Regions from separate parts of the Homo sapiens genome. Here all the other regions are reported to be linked to region 1. Evidence: microRNA targets listed by miRTarBase, many of them from high-throughput screens and not tested one by one. Region 1 holds a microRNA gene; each other region holds the end of a gene's coding sequence.

What was found. The annotated mature microRNA hsa-miR-4712-3p reads AAUGAGAGACCUGUACUGUAU and lies in region 1 at 1,969-1,989, opposite strand. An mRNA with a match to its seed (bases 2 to 7 or 8) in the 3' UTR can be bound and repressed. Matches are read on the target gene's strand: a 7mer-m8 pairs with bases 2 to 8, a 7mer-A1 pairs with bases 2 to 7 and ends in A, and an 8mer does both.
Region 2: the mRNA of CCT2 is a reported target of hsa-miR-4712-3p. Seed matches in the 3' UTR shown: 7mer-A1 at 1,551-1,557.
Region 3: the mRNA of ZKSCAN8 is a reported target of hsa-miR-4712-3p. The part of its 3' UTR that is shown has no 7-base or 8-base seed match.

Annotation. Positions count from the first base shown.
Region 1 is chr15:50,357,604-50,362,373 of GRCh38, reverse strand. It overlaps MIR4712 (microRNA 4712), which reads right to left and starts at 2,045; the gene lies at 1,964-2,045. GABPB1-AS1 (GABPB1 antisense RNA 1) reads right to left here. Exons shown (of 1, transcript NR_024490.1): 1 at 4,062-4,770.
Region 2 is chr12:69,599,983-69,603,865 of GRCh38, forward strand. CCT2 (chaperonin containing TCP1 subunit 2) reads left to right here. Exons shown (of 16, transcript NM_006431.3): 15 at 1-22; 16 at 1,313-1,588. The coding sequence ends at 1,343. Among named protein-coding and RNA genes, the nearest start is that of LRRC10, 9.0 kb to the right of the region's middle.
Region 3 is chr6:28,152,615-28,156,497 of GRCh38, reverse strand. It overlaps ZKSCAN8 (zinc finger with KRAB and SCAN domains 8), which reads right to left. Exons shown (of 6, transcript NM_006298.4): 6 at 1-3,442. The coding sequence ends at 2,481. Among named protein-coding and RNA genes, the nearest start is that of ZKSCAN8, 13 kb to the right of the region's middle.

The DNA of each region.
Region 1 (4,770 bases):
CTATTGACATCTGATTCAACATGGTGGGATGAGGGAAGGAGTTAAGGATGAGATTTTGAGCCTGAGTTCTGCAGTGTCTTTTGCACCTGTCTCGCCTTTCCTTCACCATTGTCATTCCCCAGAATTCAGGCCTACCTTATCTTTCACATTTGTGATGCATTTACAGAAAAATTGGCTCAGTCAGGGAAGTAATAGTTGGTAGTGTGTATCCAGCATTGCTCACGAGTTTTAAAAATAACCATGAAATATATAATATACATACTGAAAGTACATTTTTCTCCAAAAAACCTACTTCTCATTAAGTCATAGAGTGCTAACACTCATGTAATCCCAGTGTCTTAGAATGTTCGGCTTATTTGGCTCACGGTTTTGCAGGCTGTACAAGAAGCATGGTAGCAGTATCTGCTTCCAGTGAGGGCTTCAGGCTGCTCACGGTGGAAGGCAGACAGGAGATGACATATGCAGAGATCACATGGCGAGAGAAAGGAGAGAGGAGGTGCCAGTCTCTTAATGAACTCACTCCTTACAGAATACGAAGCCACTCATGAGAAATCCACTCCCACAACCCTTCCCACCAGGCCTCACCTCCAACACTGGGGATGAAATTTTAACATGAGACTTGGTAGGGTCAGACAAACCAAACTCAAGCCATAGCACCCTACTTAGGAACAGAACATCAACAGCACTCCAGAAGCACCTATTACCTCCCAAGCACTACTCCCTGCAAAGCTAACTATTTCTTTTCTTTATACTTTTACTACCTAAACATATATCCCTAAATCTAGATTGGTTTGCCTGTTTGTTGAACTTCCCATTTTCCAAAGTGGTTATACCAATATACATTTCCAGCAGCTGTGTAGTTTCAGTTACTCCAACTCTTGACCAACATCTGGCATTTTCTGGGTTTTCCATTTTAGCCATTCTGTTGGATGTGAGATTAAAATATCATTTAGGTTTTAATTTGCATTTCTCTAATGATTAAATTAGTTGAGTATCTTTTACATGTTTATCGGCCATCTACACGCCCCTTTTATATTTTTTAAGAAACTAATATTTAGATACCCTTTTTTGTGAGGTGACTGTTTAAGTTTCTACCTTTTTTTTTTTTTTTTTTTTTGAGATGGAGTCTTGCTTTGTCGCCCAGGCTGGAGTGCAGTGGCACGATCTTGGCTCACTGCAACTTCTGCCTCCTGGGTTCAAGCAATTCTCCTGTCTCAGCCTCCCGAGTAGTTGTGATTACAGGTACGTGCCACTACGTCTGGCTAATTTTTATATTTTTAGTAGAGACAGGGTTTTGTCATGTTGGCCAGGCTGGTCTTGAACTTCTGACCTCAAGTGATCTGCCTGCCTGGGCCTCCTAAAGTGCTTGGATTACAGGTGTTAGCCACTGCCTGGCCTCTACCCATTTTTTTATTGGATGTCTTCTTTTTTATTGATTTGTGGGAGTCTACAAATTCAAGATAGCAGCAAAGAGATGTATTTCTATTGTAGACATGAATGCATTTGGCTGGGTGTGGTGGATTACATCTGTAATCCCAGCACTTTGGGAGGCTGAGGTGGGAGGATCACTTGAGCTCAGGAGTTTGAGAATAGCCTGGGCAACGTGGCAAAACACAGTCTCTACAAAACATACAAAAATGAGCTGGGCGTGGTGGTGTGCACCTGTAGTCCCAGCTACTCAGGAGGCTGAGGTGGGAGGATCGCTTGAGCCCAGGTTGAGGCTGCAGTGAGCTGAGATCACATCACGGCCTTCCAGCCTGCATGGGCGACAAGGTGAGACCTTATTCCCTCCACCTCCCCAAAAGATGAAATGAATTCATTTGTTTGATGCTATTAGAATACCAGTAACTCCCCTTACTTTGGCCCCAAATTCACAAATGAACCCTCCAAAAGGTAATGCAGTTAACTTCATGCATTCTCTTTAAACAATGTACTGAGTCTTTATGCCAGGGAATTTGGAATTAACAGATACAGTACAGGTCTCTCATTTCAAAGTAGTATTCCTAATCATGAAGGAAATGAGAGACCTGTACTGGAATCCTGTCTTTAACACCTTTGAGGATGGTGAATTTAGGTAAGTTATTCAACCTATTTTAGCCTCGGTTTCTTCATTGGAAAAATGGGGCAAACAATACTTATTTTACAGAGTTGTGAGGATTAAATGAGACAATATATATAATATGCTTTGCACAGTGGCTGGCATACAGGAAACGTTTAATATATGGTAGCTACTATAAACTCGGTTATTTCCGTGTAGCTTTCCATGTCTACATGGAGGGAGAAAATGAGCAGATGTCCATTATAATTTAGCTATTACAGTTTTCACTCTAAAGTAAAAAAGGCATTTAGATTTATATGTCTTCTGGGAGTTTGGTTCTTCTGACTCCCTTCATCTGTGAGACCATAGGTACTTTTATGTAATATGATAAAAATTATTAGAAAAAGAAAAAAACGGCCGGGTGCAGTGGCTCACACCTGTAATCCCAGCGCTTTGGGAGGCCAAGGCAGGTAGATCACCTGAGGTTGGGAGTTCGAGACCAGCCTGACCAACATGGAGAAACCCGTCTCTACTAAAAATACAAAATTAGCAGGGTATGGTGGTGCATGCTTGTAATCCCAGCTACTTGGGAGGCTGAGGTAGGAGTATCGCTTCAACTCAGGAGGCAGAGGTTGCGGTGAGCCAAGATCGCACCATTGCACTCCAGCCTGGGCAATAAGAGCGAAACTCTGTCTCAAAAAAGAAAAAAATAAACTAAAAAGGAAAAAAGGGCCGGGCACGGTGGCTTACGCCTGTAATCCCAGCACTTTGGGAGGCTGAGGCAGGCGGATCACAAGGTCAGGCAATGAAGACCATCCTGGCCAACATGGTGAAACCCCGTCTCTACTGAAAATACAAAAATTAGCTGGATGTGGTGGTGCACACCTGTAATCCCAGCTATTTGGGAGGCTGAGGCAGGAGAATCGCTTGAACCCAGGAGGCAGAGGTTGCAGTGAGCCGAGACTGCACCACTGCACTCCAGCCTGGCGACAGAAAAAGACTCCCATCTCGAACACAAAAAACAAACAAAAAAAGGGAAATAAAGAATATGCAAAGTACAATCCCTCAAATTTTTATTAGACCCACAGAAATAAAATTAGTCTGTTAAACTGCTATAAGTTTCTAAATTCTTACTTTCTGTAAATGCCTTGACATGGATGTGTAACAAAGGGCTTACAGACTGGCACTGCCTTGTGGACCACACTTTTGGTGAGACTGCTCTAGAGCGCTGACAAAAATCAGACTTTGAATCCACAGGGCTGAAGTCAAAGCAACTGAAGGGTGTCCTGACTCACCAGCTGGCCACCTAGTGGCCTCCTTCTAGTCATAAGCACAACCTTGTGTCACTCCTTAGTTCAAAAACCATCCATTATTCTGCCTGACTCAAGGGTAAAATCTCAGTCCTTTAATCTGACATCCAAGGCCTTCCAGAGCTGGTTCTAAACAACTTTTTAAGTCTGACTTTCCACTATCCTCTACTTCACTAGACTGCATTGTCCAATATGGTAATAACTTGTCCCACTTGAAATGCAGAAGTGAAATGAGGCTAATTTAGGAACTGAATTCATAATCCTAACTTTAATTTAAAATAAAATTTAAAAATATACACGATTCGATTACCGTAAAACTTTTAAGTATGCTTGGAACGACTTGGGTACGTGAATCTATTTTTTCAGCTGGAAATTTTATGAAATCAAGTACTGAGATATGCTATAAGTATAAAATACACACCAGATTTCAAATGCTTAGTTATGAGAAAGATAATGTAAAATATTTTTAATATTTAGTAATTTTTTATGTTGATCACATGTGAAATAATATTTGGATATGCTAGGGGTTAAAAGTGTAATTAAAATTAATTCCACCTAGACAACATGCCCCAAACCTAGGCATCACTATTGATTCCTCCCTTTCCTCATTTAATTGGTAAGCAAGATAGGTCAGCTTTTTGGATCCATCCACTTCCCTCATCTCTACTGCTACTATCCTAGTCCATGATACTCCATTTCTTTTTTTTTTTTTTTTTTTTTTGAGACGGAGTCTCGCTCTGTCGCCCAGGCTGGAGTGCAGTGGCACGATCTCGGCTCACTGCAAGCCCTGCCTCCTGGGTTCACGCCATTATCCTGCCTCAGCCTCCCGAGTAGCTGGGACTACAGGCGCCCGCCACCACGCCTGGCTAATTTTTAAAAAAATTTTTTATTTTGAATAGAGACGGGGTTTCACCATGTTAGCCAGGATGGTCTCCATCTCCTGACCTCTTGATCCTCCCACCTCGGCCTCCCAAAGTGCTGGGATTACAGGCGTGAGCCACCGCGCCCGGCCAGATACTCCATTTCTTAAATCCTTCAATGGCTTCCAGTGCACTTCACCTTCTTATTGAGGCTGAAGACTTCACCTCCTATCATTCCTTCTTTTGGTCACTAGATTTCGGATACACTGACCTTGCTATTCCCTAAACACAACAAATTTTTCACCTTAGGGCCTTTGCCCAGCTATTCCCTTTGGTCTCACACTGTTCTTGTCCTTTCTAATACCTTCTCAGTGAGGCCATCTCTGATCAACCAACCACCAAAAGTTTGCTCTCTTTTCCCCAGAGTAACACTTTATCCAATCAGCTTTTAATTTTCCTCACAAACTCTTTTTTTTTGAGGCGGAGTCTCGTTCAGTCGCCCAGGCTGGAGTGCAGTGGCGCAATCTCGGCTCACTGCAGCCTCCGTGTCCTGGGTTCAAGC
Region 2 (3,883 bases), not on the chromosome of region 1:
ACATCATCAAAGCGGCACCCAGGTACCCTAACACTTTTCTCAGAAAAAATTACTAACAGCAAAACAAAATAGGGAGCTGTATTTATTTTATAATTAGAGTTAATGAAAAGCAGAGACAGTTTTGCCTGGATAAAAGTATGTAAGTTATTTAAAATATCACAACTCTTAACACTTAAGCCAGAAAAACTTAAGGGGAAAGAGGGATGGGCAGCTGAGGTAGCTCTTAGGATTGAAAAGGCACAGAAAGAGCCATGCTTGGAAAGGTCAAGTACTGAGGACAGTAGATGCTGTGATGCTTTCTATTGTCTTTAAACAGAATGATAGCAAAAGGAAACTGAGTTCTGTAACTAAAGTGTTCTAGGGCAAGGTCATATAGCCACACCTACTCCCAGAAATCTTCACAAGAAGTCAGTGCCCTCACCCACAGTTGAAATAACGCTTAAAAAATGTATAATACCTTGTTTGGTCTGATACTGTTTTAGAGATCAGGTATCTTTTATTAGCAAATTCTGAGTAATTTGCAATAAAGAAACTGAATTTTAACTCAGCCTTCCAGACCTACCAGACCATGGGCTTCTTTTTCATATTCCTTATTAATCTCCAGAAGACTTTTTTTTTCAGATCAGTGCCCTGTGACAGCTGCTTCATAACTCTTGACAATGGTTAGCATCCTAGTCCCCCCATAAGCTACCAAGGGTGAAAAGTTTATCTCTCTATATGATCCCTGTATAATGCTGTACTCTTTGATCTGTTCTTAAGCTTCTTCAGCTTCTCGTAACTGTTGTGTTTGCCTCTAAAAGCAGTGTTTCTCAAGCTTTAGATCCTTGAACAAGCATTAAGTACAAATTTACTAGTACCCTTATCCCATCTTTCCAAAAGATTGTTCTATGCCCCCTTATTGTATGGTCATCAAAGAATAAAAGATGAGAATAGAAGGTGCTTCTTGTTGGTGGGGGTGTCTGCAGAGTCCCAAGGCAGAACAGTCCTGATGTGGTGCAGGGCATCACACAGAGGAGGGGGCTGAGTGGCTAGCTCAGGTCTGTCTTCCTCCTCACCTAAAGCCAGCAGTCCCATCCTATATAACCCATTAGTCCATGACATAACTTGGTCACCTCTTAAAAGCCCAACTTCCAATACTGCCACATTGGGGATTCAGTTTCAATGTGAGTGTTATAGGGGACACACATGCAAACCATTGCAGAGTTATAACAGTTTTAATACAGGATTCTAGTTGTGTTTGTATTTAGTATAATACTTTGGATAAAATCATGCTCTTCATTTTTCACTATTGACTTTTTTCTTACTCTCATAGGAAACGTGTCCCTGATCACCACCCCTGTTAAGCATTCCCACGTGCTGTCGATCTTTGGACCAGTTTCTAGCAAAGTTGTGTTTGAAAGATACTCTATTAAAGAAGACTGTGGAATCTGTTTATCGGTGCCCATTATATCCTTAAGTTTGGATATTTAGCTGACCTTCGCTTTAACATAGGTCTAATTTATTTGCCGTGTCATTTTCCATACAAATCAGTTGATTTAAAAAAGTTCATTTCTCATACTGTGCATTAAAATAAAAATTTGAACAATTACTTGGTTCTTATGTCTTATATGTGTGTATTCTGTTTGAACTCTACTTAATGGAAATTAATGATTATTTTCAATATGGCATTTTCCAGCTTAATGATTGGCCATCTACATTTTTGAAATAATTATCTTGATTAATATAAGTCCAAGTCAAATGTGATAAACACGCCATATATTAATCTTTTGGTTTTGTTGCTGGGCCATAAGAACACTCAATCATGGCTGGGTGCGGTGGCTCATGCCTGTAATCCTAATATTGGGAGGCCAAGGCAGGTGGATCACTTGAGGTCAGGAGTTCAAGACCAGCCTGGGCAACATGGTGAAACCCCATCTCTACTAAAAATACAAAAATTAGCTGGGCATAGTGGTGGGCGCCTATAATCCCAGTTGCTTGGGATTTAATTTACCCATTTAATTTTGTTTAGTGAAAATGCCATAAACTAGTACTCATTTAATTTGGTGTAGTCTAAGTGCTGTCTCTTGCATTGAAAAAAATTACGATGCTTTCTGTGATGTGTTTTTTTTTTTTTTGAGATGGAGCCTCACTCTGTCCACCAGGCTGGAGTGCAGTGTGGTGCGATCTTGGCTCACTGCAACCTCCACCTTGCAGTTTCTAATGATTCTTCTGCCTCAGCTTTTCGAGTAGGTGGGATTACATGGTAGTCCACCACCATGCCCGGCTAATTTTTGTATTTTTAGTAGAGAATGGGATTTTGCCATGTTGGCCAGGCTGGTCTCTATGTTGTATGATGTTTTTAAGCTTGAAAAAGTCATATTTTAAAGTTGCAAGATGATGTGCTCTAAGTATCTTTTTTTTTCAAGACAGGATCTCACTCTGTCCTTCAGGCTAGAGTACAGTTGTGTGATCACGGCTCACTACAGCCTCTGCCTCCTGGGCTCAAGCGATTCTTTCACCCTCCCAAGTAGCTGGGACTATAGGTGCATGGCATCATGCCTGGTTGATTTTTTTTTTTTTTTTAATTGTAGAGACAGGTTTTGCTGTGCTGCCCTGGCTGGTTCTCAGCACCTCTTTCCAATGCTTTGTAAGGTAATTTCTCTGAAGAAGAGTATGGTTAGACTTAAGTATTGTTATTGATTGGGTTTTTTTTTTTTTTAAGGGTTTTTTGTTTTGGGTAAGTGGATAAGAGAATGAGAATGGGTGTAAGTATGGACTGAGTTCGCTGGTTTAAAGGCAACTCTAGATTTGGAGGCTGTTAATACTGCATCCGTATGTAGCAGAATACACAAGAAGTAAGAGACCAACAGGTTGAGTTTTTATTGGACATCTGTGCTAACATGGAGGGACATTCCCATAAAGGAGCAAAGGATTTTTAAAGAAACACTGATAGACCAAACAATTTTGTGGGAAGGGGGGGGGGAAGTTGAGACATGTAAGAATTTGTCTCAATATTTTAATATTTGTAGATGTGATTAAAACTGGAAGAATGTGGTATTAGAATTACACTGATTGAATAGCAATACCATCTGCTGTGTGATTTTTTTTAAGTGCTTTATCACACATTAATTGTAATCCTCACAACTGAGGTAGGTGGAGCAGGAGAGCATATGACAACCCACAAAGGATGTGGTGGGACAGGTGAGTTTATCCTGAGGGGCCAGATGGCATGGAGTTAGGCATATTTTCTCCAAAGACCTTAAAACAGATTGGCCAATAAAAAATATTAAAAAGGTAAAAATATGCAAACTACTATATTGAAGAAAATAGCCATACCTTGCCTTCATATATTTCAAAGCCCTTACTGATTGTTGTCTTTAGAAAAATCTCAAGTTCACAAATATCTTTCCAGTTTCAGAGGTAAGTATGACCTAGACCTAACTCCTGTTAACGGTTTTAGGATGGAGTTTTTACAATTTTAGATTTGGGGTACATGTGCTGCTTTGTTACAAGGGTATTATGTGTGATGGTGAGGGTTGAGCTTCTAGCATATCCATCACCCAAATATTGGACACCGGACCCAGTAGGTAACTTCAACCCTCATGCCTATCTTACCCTCCACACTTTGGAGTCCCCAGAGTCCATTTCGTCCATATTTGTGTCCGCATGTCACTTTTGTTTAGTTCCCACTTAAAAATGAGAACGTGATATTTGATTTTCTGCTTCTGTGTTCATTTAGGATAATGGCCTCTAGCTCCATCCGTGTTGCTGCAAAGGACATTTGTTTTTCTTTTTTATGGCTGTGTTGTATTCCATTGGTGTGTATGTACCACATTCTTTTTTTTTTTTTCTTTTTTATTATTATACTTTAAGTTTTAGGGTACATGTGCACAACGTGCAGGTT
Region 3 (3,883 bases), not on the chromosome of region 1:
TGATAATTCTTTCAAGACACAGTCTTTTCTCACACCCAATATAACACTAATTTTTCTAGTCATATTATTTTCTCCAAATTTATGCCACATGCTTAGTAATTCTGAGATTTAAGTAATCTGGCTACATATTACTCTTAATACTGACACATAAAGAGACTTTAGCTAGTACATCTGTATACATTTCAATGTGTTGCTCTGGTCTATGGCCATACCACCCTGAATGCACCCAATTTTGTTAATATGTTGCATTGCTAAAAGGACTTTTTATTGGAATAGAAGAGAAGCGTTCTTCTAAAGTGTATGGCAGGTGTGTGTGTGTGTGTACATACACATGTGTACATACACATATATTTTCCCTCTGACAATGCACCCATCATATGTAATATTTGCATACAAGGTAATACTGGCCCCAGGAAGAATCAGTATCTTACAGAGGGTAAGGCACAACTGAAACACAGAGCAAAGATCTAGATACAACCAGATTTACTTGTTTCTGGTTTCTTAAAATTTCAAGTACAAAGAAACTAGGAATGGTAACTTATAAATAAAAGAAACAAGAGAAGGGAGGATAAGAAAATAAAGGATAATCGAAAGGACTGTTGGAAACCAACATGACAAGTGATGGGTGTCTTCATTCACCAATGGCTCAATGAAATTGATGTAGATAATTCTGATGTTGTTAGTGGTCAAAGTGGGCCATAGAGAGGCAGAGAAGGAATGTTATAGGGAAAGAATTTATGATCCAAAAGGTGGTCCTCTATGACGTAAGACTTTGATTGCTTTTTTTGGCCCATCAATCATAAAATGATTATTATTTCTTTTCAGGATAGTCACAGGGTGAAATTATGAAGCTTTCATCAGAACCTATATAATTTTTTTTCTGAATAGGCTCAATGTAATCAATTTTAAGTTTAAAGGTTAATTTTGGAAAGCCCAAAATTTCTCAATTCCAACTCTGGTGAATAAGTGGCTACTCAAATGGTAAAACTAAAGTGTAAGAGTAATAGAGGGTTTTCTCATATGGTTTATTAAATGGGAATTCTAAGAGTGTTCCAAATATTTGGAAGAATATAGTAGTATGGAATAATAGTACTTGGGAATAACAAGTGACAACCCACATTGGATGCGTAAGTTCTGGCATGTTACTTTAAACCAGTCTCATTACTTTATATAGTATTCCTTGGTATAACAAAAGCCTCAAAGATGAAATATAGTGCCTGGTGATACTGAGTTTAAGAGTACATCTTTGTTGGTAGATTATAGACATGGATTACAGATGGAGTGCACCAGAGTTCAAAAGAATGAAAACCTGTGAGGTAAGGTATTAGATTACCACTGTGGATATTAAAGTCATATAAACTAATGGCAAGAAACAGATGGAGAATAACGAGTGAGGTGCTGAGGCCATCTAAAGAGATGGGTGCAAGGTAATGATAGGAGTGACAGACCATCTAGTCAGGGAGTTTGCACAGGCTGTTAAGAACCTGAGAAAGCAGTATTGTAATGGGCCAAAAAAGATGAGTATACATTCTTTGTAAGGTTTTTATCTTCCTAAAGCATCTTCGTCTCCTTCTCCTACCTGATGCCATAACTAGGATAGTGCCAACTATCTGTACCACAGTGTACAGTGGGGAGGTGGAAGGAGAGTCAGAAGTCACCAAAATGTATAACTATCCAAGCTCAAGAGCAGCTGGGCTGAGTCTCCACTCACCTCTTTCTCTGTATTACTCCCATAACCATTACTAATGTGTCCACTTTCTTTACTGACACAGGTGCTGGGACTGGGGGTGGTGAAGGATATGTACAGATGCTCAATGACTCAATGGAGTCAGTGAAGGTGATACATGAAGAAAAATGCTGGAGTGCTGTTAAAAATATAGCATTCTGAGTTTGTATGGGAATACAAATTTCCACTGACTAGAAGGAATATTAGAATAAAAAAATGCACACTTAAGCATAAATACTTTAAGTGTCTGTAAAATTTTCCTAGAAAGCTACATACAAATATAAGTTTCACACAGAAGCTACTTCTGACTCTACAGCAGCTTCTTAGATCAGATTAGGAATACAAGGGCACCTTCAAGGGAATAAATGGGAGAGGGGGATCACAGGAGATGGGAAGAAGCACAGGAACTAGGAGTAGCCAGCCTCTCTCAAACCTATAGCTACTCACCCAAAAGACAAAGTTAAGCTCTTCAAGCCATGACAAGCAACTTGCTCTAATGCTATTTTAAATTTCTAAAGGATACATTAGGTCATCAGGAGCTCCATCAGATACTTTCAAAGACAGTCAAGCTAATCAACCTTCACCAAGGCACTGGGCCCAAATTACTAAAGAGCTATCCTAACTTTGCCACCACTATAGATTCTGACACTAAAGTTGTGATGACCTTTCTGCCTTTTAGTACACTGAAAGACCTCTCACCAGTGTGTGGTTTCCCTAATGCTGAATAATGCTCAAACTCTAACTGATGTTGTTCCTAAACGCTTATGGATTCAGATTTTTCACCACTGTGGATTCTCTGATGTCGAATGAGACTTGACCTCTGAATAAAGGCTTTCCCACACTCATTACATTGGTAGGGCTTCTCCCCTGTGTGAATTCTCAGGTGTTGAATGAGACCAGTGTTCCCATTGAAAGCTTTCCCACATTCTTTACATTTATAGGGTCTTTCTCCAGTGTGGATTCTCTGATGTTCAATAAGGCCTGACTTCTGACTGAAGGCCCTCCCACACTCATTGCATTTGTAGGGTTTCTCCCCAGTGTGGCTCCTCTGATGACCAATAAGATGTGAGCTCCGCCTGAAGGTTTTCCCACACTCATCACACTCATAGGGCTTCTCCCCAGTGTGGATTCTCTGATGTCCAATGAGGTGTGAGCTATGACTGAAAGCTTTCCCACACTCATTACATTCATAGGGTCTCTCTCCACTGTGGATTCTCTGGTGCAGAATAAGGCCCGCACTCTGACTGAAAGCCTTCCCACACTGATTGCACTGATATGGCTTCTCCCCAGTGTGGATTCTCTGGTGCAGAATCAGGCCTGTGTTCTGACTGAAGGCTTTGCCACACTCCTTACAGTGATAGCGTTTTACTTTGTTGTGGATATCCTGATGTGAAAGAAGGGCTGACCTGTAACTGAAGGCTTTACCACACACATTACACTGATAGGGTTTCTCCCCAGTGTGGATTCTCCAGTGGCGAACAAGGCCTGAGCTCTGAGCAAAGCTTTTCCCACATTCATCACATTTATGTCGTCTCTCTTGTGTGGGATTTCCCCGCTGCCTCTCTAATCTGCCCAGAAGGTCTCGGGCTTCTTCATGCTCAAGACCCCTGATAACATCCCCGTTGCATTTGGCAGCTGTCTCTCCATGTGGCTGGATTCCAGTAGATATTACCTGTTTTGAAGCTAATTCCCTGTTCTCACTCCTGGTCTCACCACCTGAAATAAAAATGTAATAAACAAACATCAAGCCAATGTCACAACCTATTCTTTATGCTAGGAGAAAGGAACTGAAGATAGGGGAAAAGGAAAGTACACATGAACAGCTATAAGTAAACACAAAACTTCTGTCTCCAAAATAGCTTCTTAATAGTGACCTTGCTTAATATGAGCTAGTCAACTGGGAAAGAGGTACCATTAAAAAAAGAGAGTTAATTGGAAGGGGAACTAAAGTCAGGAAAGGATGAACTGAAGTGAGGTGAAAGTTGGGGAGAGGAATATGGAACTACTAAAAGAACTAATGAGCAGGACAGAAATGGGAAAATGCCCAGTCATCAAAAGGGAGGAGATACAATTAATTTATGTGAGAAAAATATATGTAGGAATCCCATGACAACTTGGAGAAGAAATATATGAACTCAGAGAGCACCTCTGAGATGT